Homo sapiens: one gene and its partners. The protein of the gene in region 2 interacts with the protein of the main gene of each other region in a pairwise test. Each region holds a gene or a part of one and is shown on either strand. Other genes may lie near its edges. The genes, in order: PDLIM7, PAK5, DDX6 and ATPAF2.

The links.
Region 1: the proteins of PAK5 (region 2) and PDLIM7 interact in a two-hybrid assay, tested with the Homo sapiens proteins (2 studies listed by BioGRID and IntAct).
Region 3: the proteins of PAK5 (region 2) and DDX6 interact in a two-hybrid assay, tested with the Homo sapiens proteins (one large-scale study listed by BioGRID and IntAct).
Region 4: the proteins of PAK5 (region 2) and ATPAF2 interact in binary tests that used the Homo sapiens proteins (3 or more experiments, as listed by UniProt).

The regions. Positions count from the first base shown.
Region 1 is NC_000005.10:177,494,802-177,498,840, forward strand, and holds the start of PDLIM7 (PDZ and LIM domain protein 7), read right to left. Parts: upstream 2,804-4,039; 5' UTR 2,727-2,803; intron 1,723-2,726; 5' UTR 1,712-1,722; coding exon 1,616-1,711; intron 1-1,615. UniProt on the Homo sapiens protein: May function as a scaffold on which the coordinated assembly of proteins can occur. May play a role as an adapter that, via its PDZ domain, localizes LIM-binding proteins to actin filaments of both skeletal muscle and nonmuscle tissues.
Region 2 is NC_000020.11:9,539,422-9,542,095, forward strand, and holds part of PAK5 (serine/threonine-protein kinase PAK 5), read right to left. Parts: intron 197-2,674; coding exon 41-196; 3' UTR 1-40.
Region 3 is NC_000011.10:118,747,236-118,750,257, forward strand, and holds the end of DDX6 (probable ATP-dependent RNA helicase DDX6), read right to left. Parts: 3' UTR 528-3,022; downstream 1-527.
Region 4 is NC_000017.11:18,022,141-18,025,711, reverse strand, and holds part of ATPAF2 (ATP synthase mitochondrial F1 complex assembly factor 2), read left to right. Parts: intron 1-1,007; coding exon 1,008-1,088; intron 1,089-3,571. UniProt on the Homo sapiens protein: Plays a role in the assembly of the F1 component of the mitochondrial ATP synthase (ATPase).

The DNA of each region.
Region 1 (4,039 bases), on a different chromosome or scaffold from region 2:
AGCCCCCCAGTCCCAGACGTTACCTCATCTCCCAGGCCTGGGCCCACAGCCAGCCCTTGCCCCTCCCACCTCCCTCCATTCTGGGGTCAGGGGAGGGGGAGGGGGCTGGCCTAACTCAGAAAAGCCCACCTCACCCACCCATGTGGGCCCAGGTCCAACTCCAGGGCTGGGATCAGCTAGTGGCCCCGCCCACATGCCAGGGATGCTGACCAGGGAGCTGGAGCCCGGAGTGCCCCCAACAGGCCATATCTGAAAGTCATCTCCATCAGGGAAGAAACTGAGGTTCAGGCTCCCCAGACACACTGGGCCAGCACTTTCCCAGGGAGCAGGACGTCAGGTAGGTTTCAGGGCTGTGTGAGGGCTATGTAGTGGGACGTGTGTCATAGGGCAACCACTGCCTCACTACCCTGCTGGCGGGGCAGGTTCCAGGAGAATGCCATCAAAGGACCCCTGAGAAGAGCACTGCTGGCCTGCCCACCCTAACCCCCACGCCCAGCTCCTACAGACAGACTCCAGCTTGAGCCCCTCCTCAGGCCACGACCCTCTGGGCCCCTCCAGGCTGGGCTTGCCTTGGGCTTCCTGACAACAGCTGCCTGCCCACCCGGCGCCTGGGTGGGTCTCTTGGGGCAGGCGGATATAGGGGCAGGAAGTCCCCACCCCCTCCTGACCCCCAGGCCAGTCAGAGATGCCAGCCGACAGGCTGGCCTCACCCACTCTGGGCAGGCAATTTGTTGTGTCTCACAACTGGACCATATAGCTGGAGCTGCAGCCTGGTGACCAGCTGAGAGGCCCACCAGTGGGGTTCAGGGGGCCAGGCCTAGGCCAGCCCTTTTCAGCTCTGCAGACCGCAGCCACTGTTGGCCATCCCAGCGTGGGGCTGCATTCTTGGGCTTATAAGGCAATCCCCCTGCTACAGGGAGGAGCCAGCCTCCAGCTCCACCCACACCAGGGCAGGCTCTTGGAAGCTGAAGTTAAGCCCCTAGAATGGAGCCCTGTCCTACACTTCTGCTTGGGGTCAAAGGCCACCACATCCTGAATGGGAACAGTGGATGTGGGTCCTTACATAGGCTGGGGAGAGACCCCTTCTACCCACAAAAAATGTACGCCATGCTGTGCCTCAATTCCAATCCCTGCTTCACCATGGACTCGATGAGCGAGCCCCGCCACCTCTCCATGAGTTCTTCTCTCATCTGGAAAAACGGGATGAGGATTGCTATTCCCTGGGCGGCAGTGAGGCTGAAGTGAAATCCTATAGTCACAGTGTCCTGCCTGGGGCCTGGCTCCAAGCATTGCCACCTCAAGTTTAGATACCTCCTGAAATGTTAGGCTCCCATCCTGCACAATGAGCCTCCCTCCAGCCCTCAGAGGTGGCCACAGGAGCTTGGGAGAACAGCATCGGGTACAGTGCAGGGCTGGAGAAGCCTGGGTGCTCCCTCCCAGTATCCACCTCATTGGGAGTCCTTGTGGCAGGCAGGTACCACTACATCTCCGGACCTAGACATCTCCTGGCCTGCTGGCCCCTGACCAGCTCCTGTTAGGACTCCCCCCATCACCCTCTGGAGACCTAAGCACCGAAAGACCGCTGGGGGAGCCCCCTCCCCAAACCTAGGCTCACCCGGGAAATGGAGAGGGGCACATTGAAGTCCTTGCCCCCTTGCAGCCGGAAGCCCCAAGGTGCTGGCCCCTCCAGCACTACTTTGAAGGAATCCATGATGCCGGCTCCTGAGAGGAGAGAAGAGAAGGTGAGTGGCCAGCATGGTGGGCGGGCAGGCAGGCAGGCCGGGCCAGCTCAGGATACCAGCCTTGGACAGGGGCCAGGCAGGCACGGGCAGCCCCTGAGCACGCCCAAGCCATAGGAGGCAGGTATTTTGTCAGGCTGGCCTGGGCTGCTGGCTGGCGGACCTCACTTTGGAAAGACAGGAGCAGCCCCCCTCCCCTTGGGACTGGAACGGTGAGGGGTGCCTGAATCCAGGCTTGAGGTTCTTTGCAACCAGGGGTGGGCCGAGGGACTAAACTGGCGCGGCCTCCCCCCAAGCCAGCCTGGAGCCTCGGGCGGCCGGGTGAGTCAGGGGCCGGCTCTCCTCTCCCCCGCCCCCAGGTCCCGGCAGGCAGGCCGCGGCTGGAGCCTGCTCGGACTATATAAGGCGTGTAAGCTGACACTGTGCGGAGAGCCAGCGGAGGGAGCACACGGGGGCTTGGGACGCGAGGGGGGGGGGAGGGGAGGGGAGGGGAGGGGAGGGGAGGGAGGCGGCTGCAGCGGATCCTCCTAGCCATTCCGGGACCAGTCGAGGCTGCTGGGAGCCAGGGCGGGACCCCTGGGTGCTGAAGAAGGGGAAGGCGGGAGTGGGGTGCGGCCCCTGTGGAGACAGATGGGGGCTGGGACCCTCAAGCATAGCTTGGAGGGGGATCCTTCCCCGAGCCCAGTGGGGGGTGGTGCCTCCCACACAGAACTGCTCCCACACCGACGTGACTCAGTTTCCCCTTAGTCCCCCGCCCGGGCCCCATGCATTAGACTGGCCCCGGCCGCAGGAAGCGGCGCAGGCGCCAATCGGCCCCGCCGCAGCCGGCTTAGCGGCAGGAAGGCGGGGGCGGGGGCGGAGGCAGGGGCCAGGGCCAGCGGGAGGAAGCACAGCCTGGACCACGACCCCCAGTGCCCTTTGTGGTCCTCAGCAGGCCCCGGGCGCCCGCCTGGTGCAGCCCAAGACGCCCCGCGCGGTCGTCGATACCTGCTTGGCCCGGCCAGGGCGCTGCTCTGCGTCGGGCTCCAGGGAGCCTCGTTGGGATCGGCCGCCAGTGTTCTGACCCCGCCCCCACAGCCACCCTCCACTTTGAGCGCGCGGACGGGGGCGGGGCACCAGGCCACGCCCTCGTCGCGACCACGCCCACTAGACTTTCTCCGCTGGTGGAAAGCCCCACCCAGCTCTTCCGTCCTGCCCAATCACCAAGTCCCGTCGGGCTTAGAGCTGAGAGGCCTCGCCGACCCGGGCCCTGCAACGGGGCGGAGTCGGGAGGGGGCCGGGGCTGCGGGTCGCCTCCTTAGGGAAGCGCTGCCTCGCCCAGTCCCTCGCACCGCCCGCTGGCGGAGGGAGAGGAAAGCGGACCTTCAAACCAGACCGACCTGGGACATAGTAGTCTCTGAACCTTAGTTTGCTACTCCGAAAAATGGGACGATCATACTCGCCTCGCAGGGCTGCCGCGAGTGTCGGTATCGTAGGCGCAACCCTCGGGGACTGCAGAATCTGTAAATCAGAGGGGCTGGGGGAGACAAGTTGAGGGGGACAGGGGCGTTTAAAGCTAGAGTTGCGCAACGCTCTGCCGAAGGCAGGAAAACAGGGCAGGAGCGGACGCCGGATGTCCCTGCAACCCCGAGCCGACCCGCGCACCGTCGGAAGCGCCGCGTCCCGCTCCACCTTGGCCAGAGCGGACTGCGCCGCCTGGGAGGCGTCCTCAGAGTCCCGGCCCCGCGTTCAGCCCAGGCACTAGGGCCGGCGGCACGGACACTGAGCACATGCGGGTGTCGGGGTGAGGGAAGGGGCGTCCACCCTCCACTCGCTTGGTGGTCCCGGCCCATCACCTCCTCCTAGGACAGAGTCGCTGCAGTTCTCCCCTCTCCATCCACAGTCATCACACCCACCCTGTTCTGCACAAACCGCCGTGAGAGTTCTCGTCGTTAAAGACCTTCTCTTGACCCCACATCCCTCTCCAGCTACTACCCTTTAATTCTCCTCTCGAGAGTAAAATTCCTCCAGGGAGTTGTCTGTTTATCGCGTCTCCACTTGCTTTCCTTCAGTTATCTCTTGAAGCCATGCCAGGCGGGCTCTTGTCCGCACCCGTCCCCTGAGATCTCTCTTCTCAAGGTCCCCTGTGGCCTGGAGGCCATGGGGCCATGGAATCCGTGGTGGTTAAGTTTCATCCTGCCCTGCCTAGGGGCAGCACTGGTCCAGGTTGATCCTTTTCCGCGAAACACCCTTTTTCCCTGGCTTCACAGCTTCCCCCTGCCCCACTGGCCCCTCCTTCCCATCCTCCTCTGCCTCTGGCC
Region 2 (2,674 bases):
ATGTCCTCATCTAGCTTTGCCACCTACACGAATCCTCTGCTCAGTGATGCCTGTATTGTCTCATGAGGGGGACGATGCAAGACGGTGGACCTGCTAGTTTTAAGAATGGATGTCCGAGGAGTTCCTGGGCTGTTGCTCTCTGAGAGGGCTCCCTCACCAACATCAAGTCTAGGAATCCCCGGAGCACTGAAGAAACCTGTGAAAACACACAGATACCAATCTGAGGACTAACACAGACACCTAACCCAGTCCCCAAAATGTTTTCCCCATTCATCCTATCAACAACTTCAAATTCCAGAAAGTTACCTTAAGGAGAAAGATGTTGTGAAAGCAAAAGCATGTCTTGTCTTTGTTAACATTTCGTGTTTTCCTTACCTTTTTCAAGTGTGAAATAATAGGTGTAAATGACAGCTCAACTAAGAATGAAAACTTATTTACTACATAAAATAACAGTGGCAATCACAGTGATAAGAGCAGCTATTACAAAATATTTAGTATGTGCAGGTGCTGGTCACACGTGCTTGATGAAGCATAGTATAAACAGGGAGCCGTTTTATTTTTCTAACAACTGCAACCACACAGGCTCTGTGGAACCCCTTTCTTTAAGAGAAACAAGCTTCTGTAAGGATATCGAACACATCTCATTTTTTTCTTTGAAGGTCTTGTAATTTTCCTTTTAAAGGTATATCTTACTTTATGTATATATTTAGAGATGAGGTCTCACTATGTTGCCCAGGCTCAAACTCCTGTGCTCAAATGATCCTCCCACCTCAGCCTCCTGAGTAGCTGGGAGTACAAGCATGTGCCAGCATGCCCAGGTTCCGCTGCACAAATACTAAGAGTGTGGCTCAATGGATTTTTACATACATTTACCCCTATTTACTTTCCACTCCTATCAAGATATAGAACTTTTCTACCACTCTAGGAAGCTACTTTTAGGTTTCCTTCCTGCCAACCCCTATCTCCCTGCAAAAGGTCACCACTATTTTAATTTATAGCATAACTTAGTTTTGCTTACTTTTGTACTTTACCAAAATGGAGTCATATATTTGATTTCTTCTCTATCTGGCTTCTTTCACTCAGTGTTGTATCTGTGAGATTCATCTCCGACGTGTGGCAAAAGTTATATCTTTTAAATTACTGTGTAGTATTCACTGTCCAATTATACCACACATTATCCATTTGGGAAACAACCTCGGACTGGTTTCCAGTTTTTTTGAAACCATTAGGATTAAAGTTGTTCTTGTACATGGTTTTGAAGAACATTGGCACTCACTGGGTGTGAGACTACTTTCATATGATACATTTTTAGTCACTTTTTTTTTTTTTTTTGGAGACGTAGTCTCGCTGTGTCACCTAGGCTGGAGTGCAGTGGTGCGATCTGGGCTCACTGCAAGCTCTGCCTCCCAGGTTCACGCCATTCTCCTGCCTCAGCCTCCTGAGTAGCTGGGACTACAGGCACCCGCCACCATGCTTGGCTAATTTTTTGTATTTTTAGTGGAGATGGGGTTTCACCGTGTTAGCCAGGATGGTCTCCATCTCCTGACCTCGTGATCCGCCCACCTCGGCCTTCCAGAGTGCTGGGATTACAGGCGTGAGCCACCACACCCAGCCACTTTTCATTATTTAGACTTAGTCCAATCCAGTAAAAATTTCAATCTCTCTTTTTTTGTTTATGTTTTTGTAGGTCCACACAACCTATATGAGTGATGCTACTGGGGCTGTTCCCTAAGATTTAGGGGTGAGGAAGGAGGAGATATTACCATTACAAATAATTCTCCTCCAAAAGGCAGCCACACACTCTCTTTTATTGTCATAAGATAGGAAGAGAGGTGTGTATGGGGCCAGTGTTTATAGTAGTAGTCCTGCAGAAATGATCCTCTGAGCAAGTCCTTTGGAAATCTGGCAGCTCCTACAGTGGTGATTCTTGGATGAAGCATCATTATTTTCTGAGCTCGTCCTAATTGGCAATCCTTGGAAAACAGAAAAGACCCCACTCGGTCTCTTACATGCATTATATTAACCATGACCTTCATTGCCCTGTACAATCTAGCTCCTGCCCATCTCTCTGACAAGACCTACCTTTTTCCCCTTTCTGACTTTACTCCAGCAATGTAAGCCTTCTTTCTTGGCTTAAGGCCTTTCCACTTGATGCTCCCCGTGCCTGGGACCTTTTTCTCCAAGATCTTTGCATGGCTGGTACCTTCTTCCTATTCAGGTCCCAGCTCGTTTGATCCCTCCCTAGAAAGGGCTTCCTTCACTCTTCAGCTTAAATCAGTGATAGGGTTTGGCTCTCTGTGCCCACTCAAATCTCACCTCATATTGTAATCCTCACATGTCAAGGGAGGGACTTGGTGGAAGGTAATTGGGTCATGGGGGCAGTTTACCCCATGTTATTCTCAAGATAGTGAGGGAATTATCATGAGAGCTGATAGTTTTATAAGTGTCTGGCATTTCCCCTGTGCGCTCTCTCTCTCCTGCCACCATGTAAGACATGCCTTGCTTCCCCTTCGCCTTCTGCCATGATTGTAAGTATCCTGAGGCCTCTCCAGGCATGTGGAACTGTGAGTTAATTAAACCTTCTTTATTTGTAAATTACTCAGTCTTGGGTATTTCTTTATAGTAGTGTAAAAACAGACTCATACAACCAGCTTTCAATCCCTTCTCCTGCACA
Region 3 (3,022 bases), on a different chromosome or scaffold from region 2:
TTGACTAAATGTGCAGACGTAAAACCCAGATACAGGGGACTGACTCTATTTTCTTAGTTATACTTAAGCATTTCTTTGGGTAGAGAGGTAGTGAGAGTGATGTGCTCAACTTTAAGTGTCTGCTTTTCCCAACTTTTATTTCCCAATCTTTTATTTCATCAGTGGTTTGTAGTTCTCAGCATATGAATTCCATTCATACTGTTAAGATGTAGTATGCCTTGGTTTTGGGGGTATGTTCAGCTTTACATTTGAGAACAATTGTAGGAGGTGGTAATTACTGATGTATTTGGACATATTATGGACCACATCTCCCCTCTTCCCAACCGATTATCTTGGTTCTCCATTTAGGCTGTGAAATCTGACAGCATGGTGGAACAGTATCTACAACAGATGAAGGGGCTCTGAATTCAACTGGGCTTCACAGGAATGATGGGTTGAGAAATGTCTGTTTCACAGTATGAATTACCTGAGCAAAATGCTCAGATTCCTATGCACACAGCTGCTACTAAGGACATACCACACACACATTTGGAGTTCCAGTGGGCTTTTATTGAGATAAATTAACAAAAACCAAGATTTTACCATATTTTTGGAACCTTATAAACTCAGCAGACTCCGGTCCATATATGCGTACATACAACATAACACATCCCAACAAAAACAGAGCCCCCCCCCCCCCCACTGGAACATCTGCCAATTAAGAGAAAGCCAATTTTCCCTTCCCCCAATGTTTCTGAAATTTTGAGTTCCCACTGTTCACTTCTCAGTGGAACTGGTCCCTTGTGGCTAGGGACATTGGAATTCTCTACCATTTTTACTGAACAAAAAATAATTTTTTTTCCTGTTTCAAAAAAGGGAATAGTGACTTTGTTTTCTCCAGGCTCCCCTTCCCACACAACCAATGTAAAATACAGCAGCCTGTATCTTAATAACCCAGCCCTACCCCCTCCCTTACCCAGCATTGTCTACTGGAGAATTTAAATACACTTCTGTTGGAATCTGTCAGCTGTGGATGGGCAGAGTCCAGGTGCCAGGCTAGCTCCCTCTGACCTCATGAACTGTGACAACCTTTGGACACTTAACTCTTTACCCCAAAGATGAGTTTTTAGATCAGAAAGGAGAGCAGATTTTCTTTGGGAGTTTTAAAAAACTATCTTTAGATTTAGAGATACAAAGTACAACTACAATCTCACAGAAGTCCACTAAAGTTCACCAAAAAGCTGACTTACTTCAGCTCTCATGAGGCCAATAATTTTGATAAAGGTATCTGGCAGGAAAATGATTCCACAATAACAAATTTAAAGATACCTAGAACATTGAAAAAAATAGCAAATTAAAATAAATGGCTTAATTTCCAAGAACTTATTTCATTTTTTTGTTACTCATCTAGAAGGTCAGGAGTGTGGCTAAAGGCAGTTTCTGATGAGGTTATGAGCTTCCAAAGTGTTTCTAAATCCTTAGTGCAGACACCCTCCCTTCTGGGGCAAAGTACCCTCCCTCCCACCCCTATTAAAAAAAAAAATTAAAAAATTAAACCACGTCATCAGAATGAGATGTTTTGATTCCAACAATTTATACTCAAGGCTTTGTGCTGAGTTGTCGTTTGAACCAAGCATGATGTTATCAAGCACAAAGCACGTGGCAAAGGAAAGATGCTCCCATCTCATTCTGAAAACAAATACTGATAACCAAGCCCACCCTCCAACCCTTTGGGGCCAACCCATTTTATGCTGCTGGGACCAACTTCAAACAATTTAGAGGTATATTTAGGTTTCCCTCTCTCTTACTTCTGTGAAAGATCATTTTAGAATAAATGTATTCCATTCCTATGGGAGAGGCAAAACAGTATTTATCCCCATCAGAATATATGGGGAAAGAAAAAACATAGGCCTAGAGGTGGTAAGGTGTGTAACAGTCCATAGCCCATTACACAACTGTACAACCAAAGGCTAAATGATGAGTTGGATGTAGTTTTAATATTAAAAATAGAGGGTAGTTCTCATCCAAATGAGCCACTGGAAAATATTATCATTACTTAAAAAAATACATATTTAATATTGGAAAGAATGTGAAAACAACTTCCAATAGTAACAATGCTTATTATGAGGGCCCAAAAAAGAAAGAAAAAAAAAAAAAAAAAAAAAAAGACCAGGCTTTGACCTAGTCCTCAGAGCATCTTTCCATTTAACAATTCCTATTCAAGAGTCAAGCACCAAAACTGGACAGCTGCCTCTACAAGACCGTGTCCAGTAGTGGTGTCCCAGATAGTTTAAGTGCCACTCCTCATTAGAGGCTATACTTCAGTAATACTTTCCATTTTAAGTCTGTGCTTTAAGAGGGACCCACAGGCATGTGGCACCACGCAGTCTAAAGTTGGTGAAGGAGACTGCACTTTTTGTTTAGTCACCCACACGTTCTCTAGCGAGATACAGAATTGCATTTATACTCTTTTCTTCTACATGAATGATCCCTCTTATCTCGCAAGAGGTGGGGGAGAAAGAGAGCTGCATCGGTACAAGGGCACAATTTTTTTGGTCAAAAGTTGACACCTTTTAAATTCCCTCTCCCACCCCTCCCTGGAAAAAAGTTACTTCCTTAATTAGGTTTTCTATTTAGTAACCAACATTGACTGGACAGAAAATATGAGGCTTGGGTTCCAAATAGATGAGCTTGTTCTTTTTTGGGTTTGTACCGTGCAGTTCTTGCTACAGTTGTTAAGGAGTTAGGGCTATGTCCCATCAGGAGGCATCTGTAGGATTTTGATCTCCAAGGAATTGTGGGTGAGTCGCAAATAGTTTGCTCAGAAGTAGGCAGAGTCAAAAAAGCAACTTCAAGTAATTGATTCCTTTGTCCAAAAGAGTTAAAACATTAAAGTATATGCGGGACTTATTTTGTAATATTTTAGGGTTTTGAAAAATAAAATATGGAAATCAATTTTTTTTAATTTTGTTTTTTGCTTTTTTCCCCCCCTTTCCAGATGCCTCCTGATTGACCTAGTACACTGGGTTAAAAGGGAATTAAA
Region 4 (3,571 bases), on a different chromosome or scaffold from region 2:
CATTTATATTAGGGTTCACTTGATTGCAGGGAGCAGAAACCCATTCAACCTAGCTCAGACAAAAAGGGGATTCTTGAAAACTATACAGGGATCCTGACAGGAAATGAAGGACAGTTGGGTCACCAGGAAAGGTAGCTGGAAGATCCAATGTCAGAGCTCCTCCCTGTGCCCTACTAGGGTGAGAGGAAGGTGAGGGAGGAAAGGCTGGTTGTCCATCTGCCCCTCCCAGCACCCCAGCTTTTCCTGCATAACTCATGACCTCTCTTCCCCACTTTGCTTACACAAGACAGTGGATTTCCATAGTGCCCACTTGGATTCCCATCCCATGAGGCCCTGCAGCTCAGCTCCTCTCAACTGGCTCATGTCTGTGTCTCTTGGTCAAACAAATGGCACAGCCTGACCTCTAGCTTGGTCCCATCAGGTCTGGCATCTGTGCCAGCAGCTGCATCTGTAGCCAGGAGGTGGGTGGACTTATGAGGTATAAACAGGCTATTTGGTCTGTGACCAGGGGCACAGTCTCTTGGAGGGGGTGAGGGTAGAGATGCAAAGACTGAGCATCTGGCACAGCATTCCCATTCAGCATCTGGGTCAAGCGGGTGTGGACCCAGGGTTGCAGTTAGTAGATTGGATCTGCTTTAGGATGGCAGTAACAGTGTGGCAAGCTTGGACCTGTCAAATATTTGGGGGCATTTAGGGTAGTGGTTCTCAAACTCAAGCTTACACTAGAATCCCCTAGAGGGCTTGTTAAAACAGATTGCTGGGCCCCCCTCCAGAGGTTCTGATTTCTGTAGGCATGCAACCTGAGAATGTGTATTTCTAACAAGTTCCCAGGCGATGCTGGTGCCAGGGCCACACTTTGAGAACCACTGCTTTAGGGGAAAAGACTTGTGGGGCTGGGATGGTGGTGGTGAAGTTTTTGCTGTTGTCCTTTGTGTTTTTCCTTTTCTATCACTGAATGAAGGAATTGTACTTTTTTATTAATGAAGGTTATTTTTACAATGAATTAGCTACAGGGTGGAGGAGCCCGAGACATTAGTGGAACTTCAAAGGAATGAGTGGGATCCAATCATCGAATGGGCTGAGAAAAGGTAAGATGTACAGCCCTGCAGAAAGCACTGACTGGGCACCTGCGTTTGGTGGAGTGTAGGGGTCAGGGGGTCACGCTGGAAAACTAGTGCCCTTAGCTAGTCAGCTTTCTGATTTCAGAGCACTCGTGGGATTTGGCTCCCCTCATATGATCAGGGATAGGGTCATCCTGGGAAAAAAGCACCTCAAATTTAATTTCAGCCACTAGGTACAGCACACCTGCTGTAGCGGTTCATGAAGTGTAGGGGCAGCTCTGTGTCCTTGGAGAAGCAGTGGAGTTCCCAGGCCACCTTCTGCCAGCGGGTCAGAGCAGCAGTGTCGGTTTGAATCCCAGCTCTGCTGAAGACTCAGCTGTGTGACTTGGCTAATGAGTTGATCTCTCTGAGCTTCAATTTTCTTGTCTATAAATGGGGCTAATAATCCCTACCTCTCAGGGTTTGAGGAGGAATAAATGAATTGATGCATGTAAAGGCTTAGCATCCTGCTTATTAGCACACAGTAAATGTTCAAATTTTGGCAGTGATTTTAATCTTTGTCACAATTGCTGTACTATTAAATAAAATAACAGAACAACATATACGATATGTATGCACTTGGAGAAAAGTCTGGATAGCTTCCTGCAAAATTACGGGTAACATCCAATGGATATGTAGCTTCCAGGAATTGATATGAAATATTTTTCTTTAATAGGAAGACTCTTGAGTGCAAAGTTGAATGGATTATTGATGTGGTGGCAAAATAAATTCAATTTCATTTGATCCCAAGGGAAATTTGGAAGGGCTGGCTTTCATGGTACTACCTTGACTGTGGTATTTTCTAAGCTTGCAAGGCACATTTCTTGGTATAGCAGTTTTCCACAAAAGTGATGTTACCAATCAGTTCACTGATTTGCCACATGCTGCCCGATGCTCACAATGTGGCAGGTGTCCTTGGGTCTTAAAAGAGAAGGCAAAGGCAGTGCTCTAAAGACCAGACTACAATACTATGTGGGAATGTGACAAAACAGTGTCATTTCAGAATCTAATGAAATGTAATAATAATTTAGGTGCCTAGAGATCTTTGCTATAGTATAAAATCATCAGATTCTTGTGGCAGGAAATACCTCATCCTTAAGAGTTTATAGAAAAACTTAGCCATTTCTTACAGTCCATTTGTACTATTAGGAATTTCAGCAAGGATTTTTTATTTTTTCTTTCTTGAGATGGAGTCTCGCTCTGTCGCCCAGGCTGGAGTGCAGTGATGCGATCTTGGCTCACTGTAACCTCCACCTCTTGGGTTTAAACGATTCTCGTGCCTCAGCCTCTCAAGTAGCTGGGATTACAGGCGCCCACCACGCCCAGCTAATTTTTGTGTTTTTAGTAGAGATGGGGTTTCACCATGTTGGCCAGGCTGGTCTCGAACTCCTGACCTCAAGTGATTGCCCACCTCATTCTCCTGAAGTGCTGGGATTATAGGTGTGAGCCACTGCACCCAGCAGGATTTTTTTTTTTTTTTTTTTGAAAGGAGTCTCGCTCTGTCACCCAGGCTGGAGTGCAGTGGCGTGATCTCAGCTCACTGCAAGCTCCGCCTCCCAGGTTTTATGCCATTTTCCTGCCTCAGCCTCCCAAGTAGCTGGGACTACAGGCATGCACCATCTACACCCGGCTAATTTTTTTTGTATTTTTAGTAGAGACGGCGTCTCACCGTGTTAGCCAGGATGGTCTCAATCTCCTGACCTCGTGATCCGCCCGCCTCGGCCTCCCAAAGTGCTGGGATTACAGGCATGAGCCACCGCGCCCGGCCCCAGCCGGATTTTTTTAAGCAACAGAAAAAAATCAGTGATATATGGAAGAAAATTACAAAAATTATTTTTATCCCCCATTGTGTTTTTCTGTTTTATTTAGTTATGATTATTCTTGAAAATGTATCTTCTCAGCCAGGCGCAGAGGTCAGGAGGCGGAGGTCGCAGTGAGCCGAGATCATGCCACTGCACTTCAGCCTGGGGTAGAAAGCAAGAAAGACTTCATCTCAAAAAAAAAAAAAAAAAAAAAAGTTTGAAAAAATGACTGCTGACTGGTCATGGTGGCTCATGGCTGTAATCCCAACACTTTGGGAGGCTGAGGTTGGCAGATCGCGTGAGTCCAGGCGTTTGAGACCAGCTCGAGCAACATGGTGAAACTCTGTCTCTACAAAAAAAATTAGCTAGGTGTGGTGGCACATGCCTGTAGTCCCAGCTACTTGGGAGACTGAGGTGGGAGGATCGCTTGAGCCTAGGAGGTCAAGGCTGCAGTGAGTCAAGATCATGCCAGCGCACTCCAGCTTGAGTGACAGAGCGAGACCCTGTCTCAATAAAAAAGAAAACCTCCATGATATATGACATAAACATTATTTTAAGGAAAACCATTTTAAATATTGTTTTTAACTTTTATATGTCCTCAAATGTGAAAAACTTTAAAGAGATGTAAAAGGCAGATGGCCTTTTGATGGAGATTCCAGGTGAATGAAT